Regions from separate parts of the Homo sapiens genome. Here region 2 is linked to region 1. Evidence: fine-mapped expression QTL. A gene starts in region 1. The other region holds a variant in brackets. All regions are shown on one strand. Distances are from middle to middle. Region 1 holds the start of HOXD8 (homeobox D8). Region 2 holds the start of HOXD3 (homeobox D3).

The links. PIP is the estimated chance that this variant, and not a neighbour inherited with it, causes the effect.
Region 2: its variant is fine-mapped to the expression of HOXD8 in testis (GTEx, PIP 0.95).

The regions. Positions count from the first base shown.
Region 1 is chr2:176,125,570-176,137,249 of GRCh38, forward strand. HOXD8 (homeobox D8) reads left to right here and starts at 4,136. Exons shown (of 2, transcript NM_019558.4): 1 at 4,136-5,374; 2 at 5,748-7,126. The coding sequence starts at 4,798. The coding sequence ends at 6,043. LOC100129455 (a long non-coding RNA gene) reads right to left here and starts at 4,959. Exons shown (of 1, transcript NR_187615.1): 1 at 2,256-4,959. HOXD-AS2 (HOXD cluster antisense RNA 2) reads right to left here and starts at 11,529. Exons shown (of 3, transcript NR_038435.1): 1 at 11,052-11,529; 2 at 9,750-9,853; 3 at 9,272-9,381. It overlaps LOC401021 (a long non-coding RNA gene), which reads left to right and starts at 11,043. Exons shown (of 2, transcript NR_148241.1): 1 at 11,043-11,430.
Region 2 is chr2:176,152,446-176,164,596 of GRCh38, forward strand. It overlaps HOXD3 (homeobox D3), which reads left to right and starts at 4,862. Exons shown (of 4, transcript NM_006898.5): 1 at 4,862-5,007; 2 at 11,628-11,723. It overlaps HOXD4 (homeobox D4), which reads left to right. Exons shown (of 2, transcript NM_014621.3): 2 at 163-781. The coding sequence ends at 497. RefSeq lists an enhancer at 2,822-3,325. The variant C/A (reference allele first, on the strand shown) is at 5,837.

The DNA of each region.
Region 1 (11,680 bases):
AGGGGCTAAAATGAAGGTCATTGTAAGTGAGGGTTTGGGTGAGCACAGCATTTGCAGGCCAAAGAGGCAGCACTGCCAAGTGGCCTGAGCTGGGTGGAAGGTGGGGGCGGTGGCAGAGATCTTGGGGGATCCCAATGAAAGAGGGGACGCGAAGAAAAAGCATAGGGGGGCTGGGAGGGAAAGCCAAGGAAGGCCCAGATCCGGCAGAAGGTGCTGCGCACCCCTGCCACTGTGGCCAGCTGGGTACCTAGGGCTCTTTGAAAACAGGAAGAGCCGAGGTGTCATAAAGCCATCTAGCGGGCCAGACGTCTGGAGGTAATGAGTTTACGACAGGCCCAGTGCTTTGCTTTGAAACCATCTCATTTTGATGTTTGTGTTTGTGGGAGAAAAGGAAAAATGCAGACAAAACTGGGTCTTAAAATCTAGACAATAAAATATAAACAAGACTGCGTTGGACCAAGAAGGCAGGGGCATGGGAGCCCCCAGGTGAGGTGTGAGCACCTAGGAAGTAAACATGAAAGAGGTAGGAAGGAAGAGGTGAATGAATTTCTGATTTTTGAAATGAACCAGGTAATGGAAGTAGCCTAAGGAGATGGCATTTTACAATATTTTGACTATGACCACGGTTTAGCTGGTTCTTTAGAAACAAACAAACAAAAAAATTGGCCTGTTATCTGGGGATAGGGTGGTTAGTGATCTTAGGTCATTTACCCAGGTGAGAGTCTCCCAGAAGTGTGGTTCGCGGGAAAAGATGAAGTTAGATGCCTATTCACAAGAATCTCTGGCCCTCCACTCCAAACTTTGAAGCAAAATGTTGTTGAAATTTATGTCTATTCACTTATAAAAAAATACAATTGTTACACCTAAACTGGAGGAAAGCAGTTTTGAAGATGAGTAAAAAGATTAACCTAACAGGAAACACTTAAGCCAATTGAATAGTCATTGCTTTTAAAAAAAATTCTAGTGGAATGCTTAGTTCAATGACTTTTGATATATATTTTTAAAATCCCATTTATTGTCCATAGAAATTCCAACAAACAGAAGCGCAAAGGGACTTTCCAGACAGCCACTCAGAGATCCAGCAAAAAGCTTTTGATTTGGCTTCGATTCCCCCCAAAATCGGCCACCTAAGTGGGCCCCAAAGCATTAAAGTTACAGTGTTAAAGTAGCAAATATTCATGATTTAATCCTAAAAGTAACAGCTGTAAGAGAAAAACAAAAACATAACAATACTTGATTTCTGTAATTTCTTGGTTGCCAAAGTGTCTGGTTCCTCTGGAAAATAAAAAGCCTCTTGGCAGTTGATATTTAGAAAGTTGTAGGTTTTGTTAAATCTAGCCTGTCCTATAATTGTTTTAAAAGGCACAGCTGGGCGGTTACAGCATGGGGACTTTTGGTGTCTGGCAAAAGAAGGGCTGGAAGCTTTTGGAAAAGACACTACTGGAAGCTGTTGGGAGCACTGATTAGAATATCCTAGGCATACAGGAGCTCCTGCTTGCTGCTCTTGACTTGTTGACAGTCACAGGAATGAAGCATTATTAGTGTCAGCAGTCCAAGCCCCAAATTGAAGAACGAGATTAGAATTGGTTTGAGATGAATAAAAATTAAATTCAGTGGACTGGAGGTGGCATTTGGCCACTAGAGAGCGCTGTTGCTCCACTTTCTGATCTCGTAAAGCTGGAATTGCGGCGGAGAAAGGTTTTGATTAAAAATATTAACAATCTTATTTTTAATCCGAAATTAGGATAATTTTAACCAAAAATAAACAAGGTGTACTATTAATTTCTGTGTTTGCTGGGCATAAAATTTTGGCTCGATCATGGCTTCAGAAACTTTGGACTGTGGCACAGCTGAAACTATAAAACATGATAAATTAATGTATTATATCAAAACAGAAAGCTGTAAAAAGCATAGATCTTTTCTTACTAAGTTAATCGCGCTCTTTTTCTACTCATATTATAAACGGAATGCTTAAATAAATGTTAAAAACTGTTTTGTCCCAAGAGGAAATGTTGTAACGTTTTCTAAATTTGGCCTGAATGTCTATAAATGAATTTTCTAGTGTTCATTTTTCTTTTATTCCCCCGAGGAATCACACAGTTCTACAAGATGCCTGGTATTGTTGAGATCCAGGCTCTTTCATTTTCCCCCCCCCCATTCCATTCCAAAATCCACTCATTTATCCAGGGTTCAAACACACACACACACACACACACACACACACACACACGCCAAACTGAAAAAAAGGGGCACAATTACAAAGGTAGCTCCAAGGCTTTATTGACAATAATAATCTTTTAATTGGGCATTTGCAAGATTGAAGGACAAATCCTTAATTGTCAGAATCAATTCGTTCGCCTTCGGATTTAAAGAAAGTCATTATACTTGGCAATAACCAGCAGAAAAAAAACCCCACAAAAACAAACAGCAACAACAACAAAAAAACCCTTGCTCTCCACCACCCCAAGTCTGCACTCCTTACTAATTTAAAAATTAAATAAAGCATGCCTCTGTCATCTCCAGATTCATTAACGATTCCTTTACCTTTCAGTCATTCCCAGTAGAAATAATTGAGTCGGACATTATCACCTTGCTATGTCTGTCCATCTCGATCTCATTTTCTCCATTTGTAAAAATGATATTTCAGTCCACCCGGACACAAGTCAGGATCGCGCTCGCAGGCTGGGCCAACCCACAAGGAGCTAGGGGTAGCTGAAATCGCTCGCCAGCCTGCAGCATCTCTGAGGCCGTCTGGGGTTTTCGGAAATTTGCATTTGGTGTGGAAAGCCGGCGTGGTGCGTTTAGCTTGAGCAGGGGCGCCTTGGAGGTCTATTTCCAAGGCTGTGGGCCTGGCGCCCTCACGACATTGTACCTATCCCGAAGGAAACGGGGCTCAGTCACCCAAAGAGCCCACGAGAAAGGCCGAGCAGGAGAGGGGAAAACACACACACACAACAGAGAACCATTGCATTTATTGGACATTGAAACGGGAGCAGAGAGGGAAAGGAAGTGTGTGGGGAGGCGGTTGGTAGGGTAAAGCCAGACAGCTTTGGAGAGAGCTGCTAAAATCGGGAATATTTTGTCGATTCACACTCGACTGGGCCACATGACTCGGGCAACTTTTCTTCATCTCTGCTCACAAACTAGGCTGAGCCTTCTCTTTCTCTGCTTTGGGAAAAATTCGTAACTTTGAGGCCTGCGCGCTCTCTCGGCAGTAATTTCACAGGCTTGGCGGAGGAAGTAGGATCGTTAGCATAAGATGGGCCGCCTGCAGCTGCCTGGAACCGGCGCGATCTGAACGCCGGCTGGGAGGCTCCTGGGGGGAACTTGCGGTCGTCTGCCCTCCGCACTCCTCCGGGAACCGCAGCCGGCCCTGGTTCGCTGCGCGCCGGGGCTGAGACCCGGGAGCCGCGTCCTGCCCGAGGAAATGTCACCCTCCCCAGCGCGAGCCCTTTTTCCCGCCTCAGAACGTTTCTGTCCGCTCTTCTATTTACTCTCTCAGCAAGCCTAATGCCCCCTCCTGCATTCTTCAGCCTCCCCCTGCGCCCAGGGCTGACGTCTATCAAGGGTGAAATGATGGAAACTATATTCATGGGCATGATTTCCATTAAATATCAATTAACCTGAGAGCCTCGGCCAGGCTTGCGGTGCGTCAAGGGTAAATGTACATCTCATTTCCACAGGGCCCGCTCGGCTGGAAAAGAAAGGCTTTGATTTGCTTTGATAACGCCAGGATCTGGGGCCACACTCGCGGCTTTTAATTAAACCACTTCGATATGCCCCAACTCAAATGCACGGTCCGGTCCGTCAACACCTCTTGTCCACGTTCCCTGGGCTGCACCCGCGTGTCCAGAGCTGCAAAAGCCACGGGCAACCTCTGCTTTTGCAGCCAGGGGCTCGGGGAGGCAGTCATTTGCTCCGCAGCCTCCTGGGAGTGGCCTCCTTGGCTCCCCCAAGTCTAAGGCTCCGCCGCGGCCCCTCCCTGCCGGCTGCGATCCGCATTCCCGCGGCCCCGGGGCACACGGAGCCCTTGGCAGTGCGTCTTTATGGGCCCCCTTTAAGGCCGGCGGAGGCATCTCGGGCCGGGCGCGGCGCTCCGTCCGTCGGCCGTAGCGACTGAACTGCGCGCGGATCCCTCCGCGGGGCTCCTCGTCCCCGTCACGCTGACTTTCCGTGCAGTGCTGTGGTGCGAAAATGCCTCGCCGGTGCGCACCGGGTCGGCAGCCTCGGCGGCGGGGGCGAGATTGGCGGGAGGGGGGCGCGGGGGGGGCGCGGTAAGAGGTGGCGGCGGGCAGAGGGTGTTTTTTTTCTTTTCCCTCCAGAGCCGGGGTTTGTAAACCGAGGCCAGAGTGTCCCCGTGGGCCGAGCGCACTTTTTTCTTGTCCGGGTGCGCTCAGTCACTGGTGCCTGAGAGGAAACAGTGGAGGCAGCGGGGCAGGTCGCCTGGGGCGTCGGCGATTATATTGCGGCCGAGCCGGGGCGCGCCGGGAAAGGCCGGGAGGGCGGCGGCGCGCGGGGGCTGGGCGAGGCCCCGCGACCCGCGAGGGAGGCGGCGCGAAGCCGAGGCGGCGGGCGCAAGAGCCGGGCATGAGCGCCCAGTAGCTGAGCGCCCGCGGCTGCCTGGCCTCAGAAGCGACGCGCGAGCGCGGGCGGGCGGCAGCAGCGACGTAGCCCGGCGGTCCCGGCGGCGAGAGCAGCCGCCCCACAGGCCCCCGCGGCAGTGCGGCCGAGTCGAGGCTCGCTCTCTGGCTGCTTAGCGCCGCCCGCCCGCCCGGGGCCGCCGCCGCTGACGCCCCAATGAGTTCGTACTTCGTGAACCCGCTGTACTCCAAGTACAAGGCGGCGGCTGCGGCGGCGGCGGCGGCGGGCGAGGCCATCAATCCCACTTACTACGACTGTCACTTCGCGCCCGAGGTCGGCGGCCGTCACGCCGCCGCCGCAGCAGCCCTGCAGCTCTATGGCAACAGCGCCGCCGGCTTCCCGCACGCGCCCCCGCAGGCGCACGCGCACCCGCACCCGTCCCCGCCGCCCTCCGGGACTGGGTGCGGCGGTAGGGAAGGCCGGGGCCAGGAGTACTTCCACCCCGGCGGGGGCAGCCCGGCCGCTGCCTACCAGGCCGCCCCCCCTCCTCCTCCGCATCCTCCGCCTCCGCCGCCACCTCCCCCCTGCGGCGGGATTGCCTGTCACGGGGAGCCCGCGAAGTTTTACGGATACGATAACTTACAGAGACAGCCGATTTTTACGACCCAGCAAGAGGCCGAGCTGGTACAATATCCTGACTGTAAATCGTCCAGTGGTAATATTGGCGAGGACCCAGACCACTTAAATCAGAGCTCGTCTCCTTCTCAAATGTTTCCGTGGATGAGACCACAAGGTTGGGATGCATTTTTTTTTTAAGAAGGGAGAGGGGGAGAAATCTGCTTTCATCTCACGTTCTGGCTTTAAAACTCCCGTTCCCTCTCCCCCTCCTTTTCCTTCTTGTGTAGCCACAGTGGCTCTTATTCATAAAGTAATACAGACTTTTTTTAAAAAAGTAGGAACCATGTAAAGATGATGGGGACAGAATAATTGTGAAGACCTCTCTGCTCCTCTTGCCTGCACACCCTATATATATATATCGGAGCTAAAGAGCTCTGTGTATATTTCACCCCGTAGACCCCCGTTCCACAAACCTCCAGCAACATGCAGAGGTACCATAACATTTTTAAAACTTTTATTCCCCCCCCCTTTTTTTTTGTTTTAATCAGCAGCTCCTGGTAGACGAAGAGGAAGACAAACCTACAGTCGCTTCCAAACTCTAGAGTTGGAAAAGGAATTTCTTTTTAACCCCTATCTGACCAGGAAAAGAAGAATCGAGGTTTCCCACGCCCTAGCCCTCACCGAGAGACAGGTAAAAATCTGGTTCCAGAACAGGAGAATGAAATGGAAAAAGGAAAACAACAAGGACAAATTTCCCGTTTCCCGGCAGGAGGTGAAGGACGGGGAAACGAAAAAGGAAGCCCAAGAGCTGGAGGAAGACAGAGCCGAAGGCCTGACAAATTAACTTCTACCTTTAAAATTTACCACAGACTATTAAAACTAATAATCACCATATGCTGTGGACACCACCTATTTTCTTTGTTGGAAAGGACCTTACCTGTGTTTCAAGCTACCTTCATGTCACTGCTCTTGAGGTTTTCTGTGCTTTGAGAGGGATTTGGGTGTTTAAAAAAGTTTCTAGTATCACATAGAAGCTGTCCTTGAGCTGTCCTATGGAAGGGTAATTTGATACTGACCTTGTAGCTATATTTTTATAATGGTTTTTAATGTCTGAGCTAGTGATTTGCCTCAACAACGTAAACTTCCTAATGATTAGCACTTAATAATTGCATATAAAATGCTTTATTAATTAAACAAGTGCACTTGAACATTTTAATATTTGTGGTGAGTAAATTAAAAGGAGTTTATTAATTAAAAAAAATTATGTCTGCAGAATACTTTATATTATTTGATTACAATGTATTATTTATGGATTTTTTATTCTTTCCTTTATAATGAATAGTTCGGGTGCGTTTTGTTTACTCCTAAAAGGTTTCTTTGCGTATTTTCTAAATGTAATATCTCGGGGAAAATATTAGAAAAGCACGTATTAGCTGAAGAATGTAACTTGTAGTCCAGCTCTGCAGCTTCCTTAAACTTAAGAAAAAGATTGGGCCAGTGACAAGAATTTAAAGACAATGTCCAAGTTGACAATTATTTTTCTATAGTCCATACAAATTAAATAATCTGGCAACTCTGGCAAATCGCCTTGTAAAATGCGTCTCATTTTTTAACTTGCTTTCGTTTTGAACCGCCCTTGTAATCGCCTGAAATCGCTAGTTCTTTATGCGGTGGCTGCCGCTGTGTTCCGTTATTTTCAGTAGGTGTCATATTTATTTGTATTGCCTTTGTTCTGTTCGCCGCTGGTTTTAAACCAGCTTGCTGTGTGCATCTCAGACGTCGGTTGGTACGTCCTCCGCTGTTCTTCAGGAAAGCGATAGCCTCACCTATTTGAAACAAGCCCTGAGAGGAAACGCAGAAAAACCTGAGTGTAAACAACTCCGGAATGTCGCTAGCTCCTTAGTAAATAAATGAATCTCTTTCTGGAGCTAGTGTCTTTGAGCGCCGCAAATACCCCTTTTCCATGAATCACTAACAATCGCCTGGGCTCGCACGAAGGAAAGGACTCGCTCAAGGCTTCTGTTTAATAAGAAAGGGGTGGGGTTACACACATTCCGCGCTGTTTAAAAAAAAAAAAAAAAAGGCCGCAGGGGCCCCTTCTTTTTCAGAGAGGACTGGCTAGTCTATCTTGCTCTAAATAATCTTGCTAAGATGCTCTGAGAGCTTTGATCCTCTTAAAGGACTCAAGTTGTAGGCCCAGTGGGGGACAACGCAAAGTCCATGTTACACCACAGCTTATTGCACTGAGCCGGCGTTGATGCTGGGGTTTGGCATCTGTTATTAACAAGATATCCATTTTCCATTGGAGGCTGCTCCTGCAGCTGCCATTTTACAGGGGAAAGTGGGGGGAAGAGGAGCGGGAGAAAAGAGGAGAAATTCAAGTAAAGTAACATTCCCGAAAAAGGGAAAGCACCTTTGTTAGGTAGTCATCGAAGAGCTCTCTGCTTTCTCTAACCATGTTTATTTTCAAAGGGGTAAATTTTTATTTCCAGAGTTGCTTTTATTACATAGATAAGAAAAATGGAATCCTATAGTTTTGCGCCAGGGTCACCTCATCGGGTTTTATCAGGCTGTTTGCCTGTGGCTTCATGGACACAGAAATGTTGCCACTGGCCAGGTCAGAAGGAAAGCACCACCTGGCTTTCCATGCTGGGAAGAAGTGATGGCTGTGACATTCTCTGACCTGAGCCAGGAAAGATAATTTTAAATCACAGGTGGCCCAGAACTTAAACATTTGCACTCCAAGAGACAGCTGCAAATGCCTATGCTGGATTTGAGAATGTTTTGCTCTGTGCACTGCTTAAGACTCTGCTGTCAGCTGGTACAGAGTAAGGATGCCAAGGGCCAAGAGGCTGGGGAACAGCCTCCAGTGTAAACCATCCAAAGACCAGTGCTGGCTGAAATCCAGCTGCCCTGGATTTAAGGGACTCAGGACTTCTTTATATATTAGCAAAACTGGCTGTCTCCTGCTCAAGGATGCTCACCAGATACTTTTAGAACCCTGAAATAATGTTGGCAAGACTGTCAGGTGGGAGCCCTGTGTATGGGTGGGTACGGAAATCAAGGAAGGAAGAGGAGATAAAATTGTCATTTCTTCAGCATTCTGTGCTGGTCTCAAAGTGTAACTTCTGGCCCCACTGGCCGCCTAAACCATGGTAAATTCATACCTCATGTACAGACAGACTGTTGCAATAGCTGGTATATATTAGATTATGAATTTGTATGTATACATAGCTTACACACACGCCCAGAGTGTTGATTATTCATGTAGGTAAATGTTTCCTTTTGTAGCTGGGAAAGAGCATAGATTTGTGTTCAAATAAAGACCTGGGGGAATTACACATCACACACACTCGCCACCTTCTTTCTTACACTGACTAGACATCCCCACCCCCCATCATGGTGTTTCATGCAGACAGACTGGCAGTGACTTGCGCACAAGATGCCCTTCTAATGGGCTCAAATGTGTCAACATCCAAGCATTGAGGCAACAAGCGAACACTTTTTTGCTGCAGAAATTTGCATAAACCTTCAGAGAATGCTTTGCCATCCCAGGCAGCACTTTTCAGCCCTGAACTGCACCAGTCTGCCTAGTGAGGTCTGTAAACCGTTTAGAGAAAAATGGTTCTCTCCAATGTTAACACTGAATGAAAGAACCAAGCCTTCTGAGTGATTTAGGCTCTCCATTTGCAATGACCAGAAACACACAAAAGAGAATGTGGGTCTCAGTGGTTTTCAGAGAAGTCAGTTCAAGGATGCCATTTTGTGAGGTTCCACAAAGCCCAATATATCGCTTACCTCTGCACAAGGGGAGAAAAATGCAAATATGGCTGCTTTTCAGTGCAAAGTGTCTTTGCGGCCCTCATTCCCCAAGTTGAAAGGGAGGGTCATAAAGCTCTGCTTTTATTTGGGTAAGATGGGGAGAGGATAATGAGGCAAATTGACTATTGAGATTATTTCTCAGAAAATTTTGGAATTAAACAAGTTATTTGCTCAATTCCACATGTATATACCAGTATACTAGTGTGAAGTCTTCTGGGCTTCTGAGGGCCCAAAAACTTGCCCCATCTGCTTGTGTAATTTAAAATATTGTTTTATTCTGTAACACAGAAGGAAGTGCTATTTCACATCCAAGCTTCTTGTGTCCTCTGCTTCCCCCGTGTTTGCTGAATCCTTGGGCATCTAGGGATGGACATGGGAGGAGAGAGAACATTTTAATGGGCCCTGGCTGCTGCTGCGGTTCCCTCCAGCAAAGTTAGGGCCCATTGGCTTTTTTCTAGAAAGAATATGACTTTTGCTGACAGATGGCAGCAAAAGTCCTTTAATCAAAAACATCCAAGGTCATCAGAACTTTTTCAAGGGATAACAAATGGCCTGCTCCAGAGGGTGCTGTGCTGCTTCCTGCTTCAGTCCACATCCACTTAGGCACTTACTGGGTGTGCAGATGTTAATAGCAGAGAACTTATACACAGGTATCTGATGCAAACATTTGTAACATAGTACTGGAAGTGTAAAGACACTGTCTTTAAAAGGATGGGGGGTGGTGTTACCTCTTTCAGGAAGGTTCTGAAGGCTGCATGGCTATGCCCATGAGGGGAATGCTGGAGGCCAGCCAAGGACATTTACTTTCAGGGGGAGTTCACCAGAGCAGTTCCTGTGAAAAATATAAAGGGAATGTGACACCGGCCTTTGAGGAAAAGGAATTATTCTTTTTTCTAGGCTGATCTGAGGAAGTCACTCTTTTCCTGAACAAATGTCTTTTCAGTATTGCGTTGAACAAATTTTTCAATTGGGAAATATTTGGGGGCAAGGGGAGAGGGGAGAACTAGAATTAAACTCCATAAAAATGAGAATTGCTCTTAGAGGAGGACGTAGAGCAAGGAGTTTCAGAAGGGATCCAGAAACCATAACCCTGTCTGTCCAGAAAGATGTTTCTGTGGAGAAAGACCAGGTGGTAGAGTTTCAAACGGGTATTTCGGAGAGGTTGACAAGTACCTAAAACCATTTGAAGCCTTTAAGCTGGTTGGTGATTATCCTACTGCAGAACCTCCCGGGAATGGGAGGGACCCCAATTTATGTTGGAGTGGTGTGTTGGGGGCACATTTTCTTGGCCTGCAGATCCCTCGTTTTCTTCCCAAGGTAACTGGGGCTGGCTTGCAAGATGAGAGGGAGGAGGGGAAACCGAAAGTGGTTGGCTGCCTCTGGGGACAGGCCTTTTCCTGAGGGGAGAGGAGGAGAAGCCAAGTGACTAGCACAGGGTGAGAGATGGGAGGAGGTAGCTGTGGGGATCGCTTCCCCAGAGCGTGAGCAGTACATTGAGTTCATTTCCCTCCTTCACGATGGCCAACTGCGCAGAGGTTTTGAGCCAAACCAAAGAAAAGAACACACACACACACACACACACACACACACACACACACGCACACACACAAATAAATCCTAGAAAAAGAAACAGAGGAGGCGGGGAGGGAGGGAAGAACCACGAAGGGAAGAAAAAGGGAAAGGTGAAGAGGGACAGAGAAAGAGAAGGGAGGAAGGAGAGAGAGAATGGAGAGAGAGAGGAGGAGGAGAAGGAAGAGAGGAGGCGGGGGAGAGAGAAAGCAGAAGAGGAAAAAACATGGCGCTTGCGAGCTGTATGTGCAAAATCCGCAAGGAATTGCAGTAAATTCCTTTTTGTTTGAAGAAAATTTACAACTTGGTAATAGACCTTTTTATGACCTATTTGCGGTCGTCATTGGCTGCGGCTGGTCATGTGCAGGCGCCGCTCGCCTTCACGGCCTTTTTCCTGATTTCCCCGGCGAATTTCCCCCCGCATTCTGCTTTCCCAGAGCCTCACCCCCTCTTTTTCTAACCTTTGTCTCTGCAGAGGTGGGCTCCAGTCACCGGCTGCGGGATTGCGGAGTCCGCCGCGGCCTCGGCTCCCGCCCGGCGCCCGGCCTGGCCCCACCGCCGCTCACTCGGTCCGCATCGCCGCCACCTCCGGAGCTGGTGGGGAGCCCGGCGAGGGAGGGCCTGGAAGGGGCCCTGGGCGCCGAGTCCCCCGCCGGCGCCGACACCGCCTGCCAGGAGCAGCCGGCCTGCTCGAGGTGACTGCAGCCGCGCGGTTCTGGCGCGGCTTCTTCACCAACATGAGCGGGTCTCTGCGTCCGAGAGTGAGCGCAGCCGGGCAGCGCCTAGTGGATTACAGCAGACGCCCGGACCGACCGCCGCCTGTAGCTCGGCAGCCTTCGGGTAAGAATCGCCCCCTCCCCGCTCCCCAGCATGCCACCAAGAAGCCTGGGGCGCCGACCCCCTTGGGCAGCTCAGTCCGGCTGCTCCCCTACATTTCCCGGGGAAGTGGGGGGTCGCTGTCTAAGCCCCTTCCCCCAATCACTTCGTTCCTAGGGCGTCCCCTGGGGCCTGGGGTGGAGTCCGGCTGGGTTCAGAAGTCTAAGGGGGCAGTATTATTTCAAAAATTCTGAGATACGGGTAGCCACAGACA
Region 2 (12,151 bases), 27 kb after region 1:
GTGTGCGCCGGGGAGAGGGCGGGAGGGAGGAAGCAAGCGAGCTTGGGAGCGCGCGGGGAGGGCCGCGGGCCTCGGGGCGCGCCAGGAAGTGAGCGGCGGAGGCGAGGGGCCTAACTAGTGGCCGGGCGCTGACCTGCCTGTCCTGTCTGTTTTGTCTCGCAGTGAACCCCAACTACACCGGTGGGGAACCCAAGCGGTCCCGAACGGCCTACACCCGGCAGCAAGTCCTAGAACTGGAAAAAGAATTTCATTTTAACAGGTATCTGACAAGGCGCCGTCGGATTGAAATCGCTCACACCCTGTGTCTGTCGGAGCGCCAGATCAAGATCTGGTTCCAGAACCGGAGGATGAAGTGGAAAAAAGATCATAAGCTGCCCAACACTAAAGGCAGGTCATCGTCCTCATCTTCCTCCTCATCTTGCTCCTCCTCAGTCGCCCCCAGCCAGCATTTACAGCCGATGGCCAAAGACCACCACACGGACCTGACGACCTTATAGAAGTGGGGACCCTGGGCCCATCTCTCCCTGCGCACCAGGCTGAGCCGAAGCTGCGGGGGCAGGCCGGGCCTGCTGTCACCTCGCTGGGCTCTAAGGTACTGTGGGGTGGACCTGGGACAAGCAGGCCGCCCTCGGACTAGGTTAGCATCCTGCCCGAGGGCAGCCCCCTCCCTAGAGCGGGATGGGGATGGGAGGGGGGGCGGGATTCTCTCTCTAAGTATATTATATGGCAGGAGCTACTGAGAACATAAAATCTTGGCGAGTCATTAAACTTATGAAAATCACCGCTCTTGGATTTTGAATTTGCAAATGAAGGTTGGATGCTTTATCCCACTGTGAATTTGGACATTCTCCCCCACTCCACCCCTCCAGGGTGCTTTGTGGCTTAATAATGTGGGGGAGTTGAGGCAGAAGGTTGGCCACCCCTGTGCTAGGTGCTTTCAGTGGAAGCCAGAGAGCTGGGTCAGGATTTCTGGACTTTCTGGGTTGTCTATGGAATTTCATGTGATTAAAAAATATATATTTTGCTCCCAGTGGCCCCACCTCCAAAGAAATGGGTCTAAGAAGGAAGTAAAAATGGGTTATTTTATGTTTAGATATTTGCTTAAATATTTATTTGTTGGGAAATGTGGTACAGAAATAACTGACACCTTCATGCCAAAAATCTTAAAAAGGTGAAAGGGGCTGAACTTCAGGGAGCAGAATCAGAGATATGTGCACTTACTTCTGAACTCCACCCCTCCCCACTCTCTGGAAATGTATATAGGGGGGCCTTAACCCTTCCAGAAGGAAGCAAAGGATTCACTCAAAGTTGCATTCTTGAAAATATATTTCCACATGTGTTTTTTTCAGCACTGTGCTTACAACCAGTTCTGGGTGATTAAAGGAAAGGGAAAAAAACCAACAAATGGTCCAACATTTTCCTTCTGGGGAAAGAAAACAAAACCTCTATGCACTGGGTCATTAGATAATGACTGAATTTTCTGTTCCAACTGGATTCCAAATGCCCTAAATACCCTCATATAGCAGTGTTTTACAGGAATTAGTGTATGGCCTGTGTAGGGGAGGGGCTGTGCAGTGGGGAGAAAGTGGGAAGGTGAGGAACTCTTGCTTTAAGAAGGAAAAAAAAAAAACCCTAATTGAATCTAGAAGTCCACAAAAGTTAGCCTTAGAGTTTTTTTCCCCCTGAAGTTTTAATTTTTTTAAAAACCAAATCTAAGGAAGTTTTCCTCAGCTCATTAATTAGAAGCAGAATTTGTAAAAGTATAAAAGTTTTCAAGCACTCGTCTTTGCCTTGAGAATAGTGGTTTTTTAAAGAATCACTCTCAACAGGGGAGATGTCCTCTAGTCGTTTTTCTTCTGCCTCTCCTGGGAAGGGTTCAAAGTTCATTTTTCTAAAATGCTGACCCTCAAGCATAAGGAGGAAGAAGTCAAAGTTAATGGCCAGAGTTCATATACTCAGATGAAACCAGTCTTCCCAAGGCCTCAGGCTCCAAAAAAGGTTGTAGCTATCAAAAAGTGACCAAAGTGGGAAAGGGAGAAAGGATAAGCTTAAAATTTAATTTTAAGATCCAGAAGGGGGGTATTTTTTTCAGTACTTCAAAAACACTTTAGAAGGTTTCTGTTGTAATTTAAAAAATATATTTAAGTGGGAGGGAAAAAAGAGTTTCTCTGTAGGCTTGTTCTTTGGCTGTGTCTCCTGAGAGCTGAGGGCAGGTATTCACTGCAGTCCCTAGGCTGAAATTCCGCTTCTCTGAAGTGTCTTCCAAGCCTTGGTCTTTTGTATTAGACCCTGGGGACTGCTCTTTGTTTCTCCTTGGGGTGAGCCTGGCTCTCAGACTTGCACATGGCAATACTTGAATGTCACCACGTCGGGATATTAAAGATGGATATTCGTGCATTATTCACATCATTGTTTCTATGACAAAAAGCACAGAGTTCATACATAGTCAAGACGTCTTTTTTCTGACGCCCTCACGTTGAGAAGCTGAAAAGGTATTTTACCGAAGTTCGGGTAAATTACAGAATCAGGTTCATCCAGAGGACAAATTTTCTATTTGATTAGCTGTATTTCAGCCGGGAGGACTGACCTCTAAACCCCTAACCTTTTGGACTCTAACTACCCTTCTCTTCTTTTTTCCTCTCTAACATGGAGAGCAGTCTTTGGATGTACCATTTGAAAGGAGCCGCTATCCTTAGGCAAGTTGGAAAGTTGCTAAGCTGCTTTCCTAAAACCCAAATCTGTCTATACATTGAACCTTCTCTTTGAGAAGGGGAAAAAGGTATATATTTTCACAACATCCAATTACATATATATAATAGAGATTTGTTGTATAGATTTTCCCCCACCTCAGAAGTTCAGGTTACTCACCCCCAGTTTCATACCAAATGCCACACAGGCTTAACTGACTGCATCCCTGCCCCAGAGGAAAGCCAAGAAACATGTTTTCATGAGGAAAACCCAAGCTCCTTCTCAAACATAGCCCCACTACTTTGGAAAGTAACTTAATCAGAGAAACAACTTCTTTGTTTATAAGTCTCAGCTCTCCTTCTCAGCTTGGAGGGATTCTTTTGAAATGTTAATGGAGCCTGGATGGCCCAGAGTGCAGCCCCCAACCCTGAGGTCCCAGTCGGACCCCAGCATCCATTTGGGCCCACAGGAGTGGGCCAGGGAAGGGGTAGGGCCCCGTAACCACTTAGGGCAGGGAAGGAAATGGGTTTCCATCTGAGAACGTGCTTTGGAGAAAGCTAGGTGTGGAAAAGCTCCAATGCCCATTTGCTATTATTTGTTTCCAGTTTGTTCCTTTAAATATGAGCCAGAAGTGTTTGTGTTGGTGTTTTAAAAACAAAAACAAAAACCGTGTTGGGGTCCTGACTGGGGGAGGGGGAGAGTGAAGTGTTTGCTGAGGACATTGCTCCTCTGACTCCCATCTCACTTTGTCCATCGCAGCCTTTTGTTGGGAGATGACACTGTCAGTCAGCCCATGATGTCTGTTCACACGAGATGCTTTTTTAATAGAATTGACCAATGTTTTGCTGCCACTGATTAAAGTATTATTTATACTAATTGTTGCTTGTAGTTTTGATGTAATTCATTGATCTATATTTAAAATAATAAAAGGTGTAGCAAAATCTCCCTCCTGTTTGGTGCCTTAACAGAAGCATTCATCCTTTGTTAAGTCTTCTAAAAGCTAACATTTAACATAAACAAGTTATTATTTTCTGCAATAAATTAGGCACCATTTTTTGGGGGGTGCCTAAAGTGTGAAGGTTAAACCATGTAAGGCTTAGCAATTCTATTATTACCACCTCCTTAATGTACACACACTCCCAGTTGGCCACCATATTTTGTGAGCATTGGGAAGCCTGGGGTTGAATTCAGGGTACAGAGTGTTGGGTGTTAATTTTTTGAAGAAAAAGTAATTGCCCAGGTTAATAGGGGGATCCAGGTTGGCATTCTGCTGGGCCCGGGCCAGGCCCCAGACCTTTTTGGTCTGGAAGCCCTCAGAGGAAGTCTTTGGGAAGTGGTGGATGAGACACCTTACTGGTCCCCCACCCCTAAGGCAGGGAGAGCGTGCTGGGTTCTGGGCCGAGCTGAGGCTCCTGGGTGGCTGCTCTGACCTGACCCCCGGGCCTCCACTCTTGGGCTTCTACTTTTCCAGTACTGTTAAGCTCCTGTGGGGACTCCAGCACCTGCCCCTCCTTCTTCCGCGCCCCCTCCACCCCTCAGGCAACAATAAACACTCCCCACTATAAAAAGTGCCCTGCACTACATTTACCGCAAGGGCTTCTTTACATCTTGGCCTCGCCTTGAAGAAGGGGCCAAGACAGGAGTCCCAAAATAGATGGGGGTGCTTGTTCCAGACAGGAAATGAGCAGAATGCATAAAATCAGACATCTGTCCTTAATATATGGAAGGGCTTGCCCCAGACGCGTGGACATGTGTATTTATAAGTGCGCAGGCAGAAGTTTAAATATTCAGACACATTTTATGATTGTCCTCTGCCCGTCTTCTGCTTAATGGCTCCTCCCGTGCCCACCAATACATCAATACCGTTGTGTGTATTGAATCGCGGGCAGGGATGAGGAGGAAGCGAGTCCATAGCAGAGCCCGCTGAGTATAGAGTACAGTAAATCGGGACCCTCGGCGGACGGCGCTTCCCGCCCGCCTGCCCGCCATGTTGGGGAGCCCTCCCTGCCCCCCGCGCCGGGCTGGGCGGCCGGGGCTCGCTGGCAGCCGGGGGAGGGCCTTTCATAACCCGGAGAATTTTCTAAGTGCGAGGAAGATGATAAGAATAGATTTCTACAAGTCCCGACCACGTGATTGGCGAAATAATTAATTCAGCACGTCCCTTAAGAAACACGGAGTCGTCATTAATCTGCCACGCAAAGGGCTCTCTCCGACTTGGAAAGTGCAGGGATCCCAAGAATATCACCCGTCCAGGGGGGCCGCGCGGTGCCCCCGGCCCTCCACCCCCGGCCCCCGGCGGGCGCGGGAGCGCGGCCGCAGGTAAATATTTTGGCAACTTTTATTTCATCAGATTTAAATCCTTAATGAACTTAGCTGTCACGGCCGCTGACAAATAGTTCCCTTTGCTTCCTGATTTGGAACTGCGCGCCGGCGAGAAGTTGTTAGTGGCTTGGATGGTGACCTTTGGTTCAGCAAAGCTTTGCACTTATGAAAAATTACTGAGAGCGGCCGAGTGTGTGTGTGTGTGCGTGCGTCCGCGCGCGCGCTTGTGTGTGTGAGAGAGGGAGAGACAGAGACAGAGACAGAGATAGGGAGAGGGTGTGTGTGCGAGGCGCTAGGGTGCCAGGGGGCGAGGGGTGAGGGGCGAGGTGCACGCGGGCTGCTCCAAGACAACAGGAGTTGTAAAAAACCGGCCCGGCTGGCGGACGCGCCTGGCGCACGCGGGCCGAGGTTGCCTGGTCGCCTGTGTCTACCAGGAACAATGGTCGCTGTCACGGCATCTGCCGCCTATTCTTAAACCGGTGAGAAAAGGCCCTGGCCCTCTTTTCAAGCGAGGGTCGTAAATTTTTCTTTGCGTCATAATAGAAGGCTATAAAATCGAGTTGAAATTTTACCCCAGGCAGGTTTTAACCAACAGATAATGATTTCCGAGTTGCCTCTCCCCCCGCTCCTCTCTCCCCACCCAAGTTCTGCTGCCTCTGTCACCCCAGCGAGTTTCTTCTTCTTTCCCGTTTATTTTTGTGTTTGTATTTTTTATTTCTATTTTGGAAGAGCTAAAATAAACGCGAGAAGAAGTCCCTGCAGCCCGAGTGGGAGACCCCGGGGCGACGGGAAGCCTGGGGAAAGGAGGATGGGGGAGAGGCCAGTG[C/A]GGGCTGCAGAAGGCTGTTTCTCTGCTCGCTCCCGTTTCTGCCTTTTTTCACCGGCACTCCAAGAAAATTGGGTGTCCTAAGAGCCACTCCGCTCCGTTCCACCCCATCCCCAGCTTGCCAGGGTCGTGGGCTGGGGCAGTAGCGAGCATTCTTTTCTTCCAGCTTGCAGCTCCGACCCGGGCGCCTCTTCATTCGCCTCCTTCCCTCTTGTTGCTGTGAGATACCTCCATTGGCTTTCAGAATGATTTCAGCGAGCAGGGGCTGGCTGCGCGTGGTGGTTGTTTTGGGATTATGTGTGCGTGTGTGTTTGTGTGTGTGTGTGTTTTCATTTATTTTTTGGTGTGTGTATATTTCCCCGTCAGGACAGAAACAAAGTTTCCCCCATTATGAATTATACATTCAAACAATAACACATTAATTCAATTATTCAAAGATGACAAATGTTTATGTGCTTTGCGAGTGACTCGGGCGCAGATTCCAGGCGCTTTCTCTGAGCTGCTTGCATTTTTCTCAATGAGAATCGTCTCCCCTCCCACCCCCCCCACTCCAACCCACTCCAACCCACCTAGATATCCCCTTGTAGGCCCAGAGAGGAACCCACAAAAAGCTTCCCCAGCCCTGCTGGCAGCCCGGCAGCCAACAGCCTCCCAAGGCCCCGGCTTGGCGGGCACTGGCCCGGGCTATTTTATCAGTGTGACAATTGCCCGGGTTGGTGTGATAAATCATCGTAAGTAATTCCTGAAAGGGTGCGAGACTGTTGGGGGCCGGGCGAGGACTGTAAATCTTTCCGGTTTATTGCTCTATGAACATATGCTCCGATTGAAGAAGGCTTAGATCCTTTCCTGGAGACAAATTCCCGCAAAGCAGCCCCCCTCTTTGGCTGGGGATTAACACTTGCTGCTGGCCGTCAGGTCGGCCTCTGGCAAGAGGCTAGGGGGCGGGGTCCTCCGGGTGGGGGTGGGCTGGGGTCACCCACGATCCGGCTTCGAGAGACGCCCCGAGTGGGCCTCTGGCCAGGCCCGGCCAGGTGAACAAAAGGATGGGCTCGTAGACGGTTCTGGGGGCTCGGGCCTCCAGGACATTCCTGCGCCTCTGGAGTGGGGATGCGGTGGACCTTACCCACTCCTCTGGGGCTCTTCTATGGCTGCTGGGCACTTTCACCGGTCTCAGACCCTGCAATCAGCAACAGAGCATTTCACTGTGCCTGATGCCGCTGAGCAGAGCTGGCAACGAAACCAAAACTTCGGGGACAGGGTGGAGAGTTCCCCGTGGTGCGGGATTCCCGAGTGTGGCCCCGGCTGGGGGAGGGTCTTGGGCGCTCATTACAGGCCAGGAGGTCCGCTGCTGGCGCTGGCACGCTTAATTCTTTTTTCCCACATTGCAGAATCATTCCCACCAGCCACTCGGAGAGTGGTGGGAATCTGTCTTGGTTTAATATTTCTAAAATATAAGTTTCATTGTCCCCCAGGTTAGCCCAGCCAGGACTCATTGCGCAGTCCTCCTCGCCTTCCTGGAGGCGCCGCAGGAAGCGGGAAGTCGCGGCTTGGCGGTTGCTGGGCCTGTGGGATCTGCGGGTCCTGCCCAGACCTGGAGTCGCACAGATCACGGCGGGCAGTGGCTCAGCGCCTAGGCGGCTCCAGGCCTCGAAGGACCAGGTTGGGGTGCTCAGGGATCAGAGAGGGGAGGTCGCTCTGGGTCCGGGTCGCCTGCTACGCGCCTTTTCTGTCTCAGAAGTGGCGGTGACTCGGCTGCTGAGTCCGCGGAACGAGCCACGGAATGGTGGTGGTGGCGGGGTTTTCTGAGGTGACTGGCCAGAGCTGAGAGTCGCGGCTTCCACCTTTGGGCCGGAGCGGGTCCTCGCCCTGGGAGGAGCTGGGCGTCGGCCTCCGCGGCGGGGAGGCCGCCTTGCCGGGGTGCATGAGGCTGCGGAGTACTCCGCGGGCCCGGGAAGCTAGGGGTACCCTCAGCCTCTGCTGCTCCACGGCAGTCTCCAGAGACGCTTCTAAGAGAGGCAGTTTCTAAAATTTCCAGCTCCCGGACCAGTCTGGCGGAAGGCCCAGCCAGGGTCAGAGGTCGTTGTGGGGAGAGACTCTCAACGCCCCCAACCCACTGAGGGCGGCCAGGCCAAGACTGAGTCGGCCCGGAGCTGCGAAAATGTGTTCTTTCCTTCCGCCCCACACCCATCCGCGTCTGCCCCAGGAATGGGGCCCAGGTCCCAAGCCTCCTGCGCCCTTCCTTCCAGCCCCCAGGCTTGGCTGCGCTCCGGGACTGGGTGGCGTGAAAGTTTCAGCCTCAATCAGTACAAGCTTCCCTCGGGGTCACGTGAACAAATATGCTTGCATTTGAAGGCAGCGTCTGTATTTCCCGACTATGAGGGGGTTTCCGGGGCTCTCTCCAAATCCAGAAACGACCACGTTCCGCAAGCAAAACAAATCCCAAGCTCTGGGGGGCCTGGGAGGGCTGGGCAGAAACCCAGGAGTGGGTGGGGGCGCGGGTGGCTGCCGCTCTGGGCCCGAGAGCGGACGGGCGGGCGGGTGGACCGATGGGCGCGCAGCGCAGGCGAAGCCAGCTCGGGGACTACGAACTCGTTCCTCCTGCGTTTATTGGTAGTTGAACCTCAGCCTGGTTCCGTTCTACCGGGAATTCCGTGTGCTCGAGTATATGGCCGTGTCTGCGAGCGCGCAAGACCAGGGTTGGGACAGTGTTGTCTGCAGACAAAGGGGGAAGGCTAGCTCTGCCCCCCACTGGCGCCCACTCTGAGGCCGAGGACACCAGGTTTATGATAAATTGGGATCCAGGTAAGCAATTGCATGACAAAATGGAAATCTTTGGGCACGGGGCTGCTTGCCGCCCTGAGCGGGATATTAAATATGATTTATTTTGTGTAATCTGTGATCTTGATTATTGCCAATTGGTGAGGCAGCCCGCGTAGACCTAGATACACTGCTACATATACATGGAGGACGGTGATTAATCGTAACAAGGCGCGCTTTGTGGGGACGTTCCCCGCCTACCAAAGGGTTAGGAGGACACTACCTTGCCAGGCTTGGAGGGTGGCCGGCAGCATTGGGGGTGGTAGTAGCAGTTTAAGGAGGGGATCTGGTGAGGGGATTGAGTGCTGGAGGAAATATTTGGGGGCTAAATGTGCACTTAGGAGAATGGGCTGAAAAAGAAATTAAAACTTTTTTACACTTTACTGCCAAAGTAAGATGGAGCGTCATATTAATTCTGTGTCTTGAGCTGCCGGGCTGGGTGCAGGCGGGTTGATTTATATGTATTTAAAATAAACTCGGTGGTCAGCCAGCTCCCTGCATTGTTCCGGTAGCGAGCTCCACACACAGCCTTTACCTCTTGCTGTTGGCTTAATTTTTTCTTGGGAGATTAAAACGCTACTGAGCTTTTCCTCCCAAAATTTGAGAGAACCTCCAAACTACCCAGAAGAGTTTGGGAGGTTCCTCCACATTTCCCTTTACCAATCCAGGCTTTTGATTGCCGTAGTGGCAGAGAAAAGGTTTAGTGTTTCTAGGTCCTTCTCCCCAAAGAACCCTGAATGAAAGCTAAATCATATATTGGTTCACGAATCCCATCTCTCCTTTTGTTTACTTGCTCCCTGTGGCTACTGGCTGGGAGAGGAGAAGACAACCCATCCCGGGTCTTTCCGTGCCAGGGATGGAGTGAGCAGCTCCAGGAGCTCCAGTGAGTGGTTCCATGCTCGTGGTAATGCCACTGGGCCAGACCCAACCGGACCTTTATGGGGAAAGAACCTCAAAAGCAAGGAGCATTCCCTTAGCTTAGGTTGGGACAGGCCCTAGCAGGAGAGGAACCGACTTCCAGGGGCTTCGCCATCATAAGAGAGCAGTAAAGTTGTTTTGTCAATCTCCTGCGCTTGGCTTCATCAGAACTGAAAGTCGCTGGACATTTTTCTTTGCTAGCTGCCTTGAAGCTGCGCGCCTGCCAGCTTAGTCAGCTGAATCCAATTACCGCGAGTAGCATTTCATTTGGCCCCATGGAGCATTCACTTATAACTTCCCCCGAAAATTTCAATAATCCCTACCAAGGCTCCACGCTGGCCCTATCCTAAAGAGTTTTCCTAGGGTGCTGCTGAGGGATGAGGTGTAGGGTTGGGGCTGCCTGGACTCAGCTCTTCCTTGACAGCTCACGGACGCAGCTCCTTCCTGCTCTTCCCGTTTTTGGCTCCAGAAAGAGCACCAGTGCTGGTGGTCCAAAGCCAGCCCGGTTAAGGCTGAGAATCTGGGCAAACAAGGAGCCAAAGTTGGACCCGCGTGGGATGGTGGGTGGGCAGGGTAGGGAGCGTGGGAGAAGGTGCTGAAGGCTTTTCTGGTGGTCCAACTTTGGTTAACTTGGGGTCCTCTTTCCTTTCTTCTTCCCAAGCCTCTTACGCCAAGAGCTCAAAGCGCACCGCGCACCCCGGAACCCCCAGGCGCAAACTTACCCTGTTCCTCCGCGGCTGGAAAAAGAAAAATCTAGCTAGAGGCATAAGGGGGTGGCGGCCCCGGGTGACCTCCCAACTTAGCTCTTCTTTTGAGGGGATGCTCCTACTTCTAAAGAACTCTTTTTTAAAAATAAATAAATAAAAAATAATCAAGCGGCGAAAGTTGACGTCCGCCCACGTGAATGTATTATATAAAGCAGCTACAGGACCAGCTGGCTTGAGAGCCCTGGTACCTCGGGCCTCCACCGCACCACCCTCAGGTCCCGGCCCAGCCAAGAGCGCTTGGGGGAGGGGGGCGGGCAAGTGGCTTTTCCCCCTGGGTCCAGGCCGGCTGGGAAGCTGAAGCCGCAGCGCGAAGTTAGGAGCCCTACCGGGCTGGGATCTCTTCGAGGCGCTTCTGTTGGGTGTTCATTAAGGGGTGAGTTATTGCGGTGCGAGCCAAAGGTCACTTCAAAGGCTTATGGCTGCGCGCTTTAGTCTTTAGAAGCGCCGGGAACGCTTTGTGTGAGGCTTTCCCGGGTGTAGTTTAGTGCTCGCAAACTACTGAGTCGACAAATTGCACAGGGCAGATGCAAGAGGGGGACTCTGTCTCTCTCCTTTCACCTGACGGGGGGTGGTCACCCGCTGAGCGGTGACAGTGGTGGGGGAGCTTGGTCTGTGGCTTTGGGTGGGGGTGGAAAGGATGTTTGTTTCTTAGGCGATTTGCAGTCTGATCCTGACCCAGAAGTGGGCAGCCCAGGGCCAAGAGTGTGGTGGATACTTACCGGAATGAATAAACTCAGGGAAAGCATCTGATATATTTAATGTATAAATCAGGAACTAGCGCCCAGGTCCTCTTCACTGAGGCTCTGTAGAGCAGCCCCTGACCAAGATCCACCCAAGCCTATTTACCTTCCTTTCCTGGTGCCCTTTTCTGCAGCCTCCCCTGCCAAACCCCCACCTTAATTCTGCACGGTCTCTCTCTTCTGCCCCTAGGAGAGTGTTTGGCTTCCGGGATTGGGACCTGGAGGAGCATTTAGAATTTGGTAGGGGCAGGAGGAGAGCAGATTGGCTTCCCTGCACCTCTGACCCACCTGGCTAGAGGGTCTGGCGCTTCCCTCACGTCCGGGCTCTCCCCTCCCCCATCCAGCCATGGATTTTGGCGTTAAAGGGGCCCTCGCTCCCCAGGAGCCAACTGAGTCTGTGTTTTGCCGGGGAGAAGGCGTCTGGATGGTCACGGGTACCATATACAATAGTCACATTGACTATGACGTCCTTCAAGTGGGAAAAGCCCTTCAACATGTAAGTGTTTGTAAGCAAGAACCGGCTGCTACTGAGAGTTTTCCATTTTGTTCCAGATTCGCCTCCACAGATATCAAAAGAAACCTGAAGAGCCTACAAAAAAAAAAGAGATAAAGACAAAATTCAAGAAAACACACACATACATAATTGTGGTGAGTGGGCATCATTTAAATAATAATTTCCAGTACATTTCCCTCTGCAACTCAAGGTGGCCATCTCAAAATTCATACATCAAGACATAGAACAAAGGGCAGCTTTGAAGTGGGTCACTTCAGTATGAAGTACCACCCGTTACATGAAAACCGATCATTGGCCTTCAAATTTATGGCGCTTTAATGGGGCAAGCCCAGTGCCTTAAATACAGGGTGCATTACAGTATTGAGTTATCTGGGCTAAATAAGAGTGATTTAGAAGGCGCGTCCAGGTCTTCTTATAGAGCAAAAGAGGCTCAAGCTTAGAGATCGGGAGAACTTGGGCGGAACGTAAAGAAGTCTCCTTTCGAGCAAACCCAAAAACCAGTGGTTTCGAATCCCGAAGTAGCAAAGCCAACAGGAAAGGGAGAATCGTTGCTCGGTTCCAG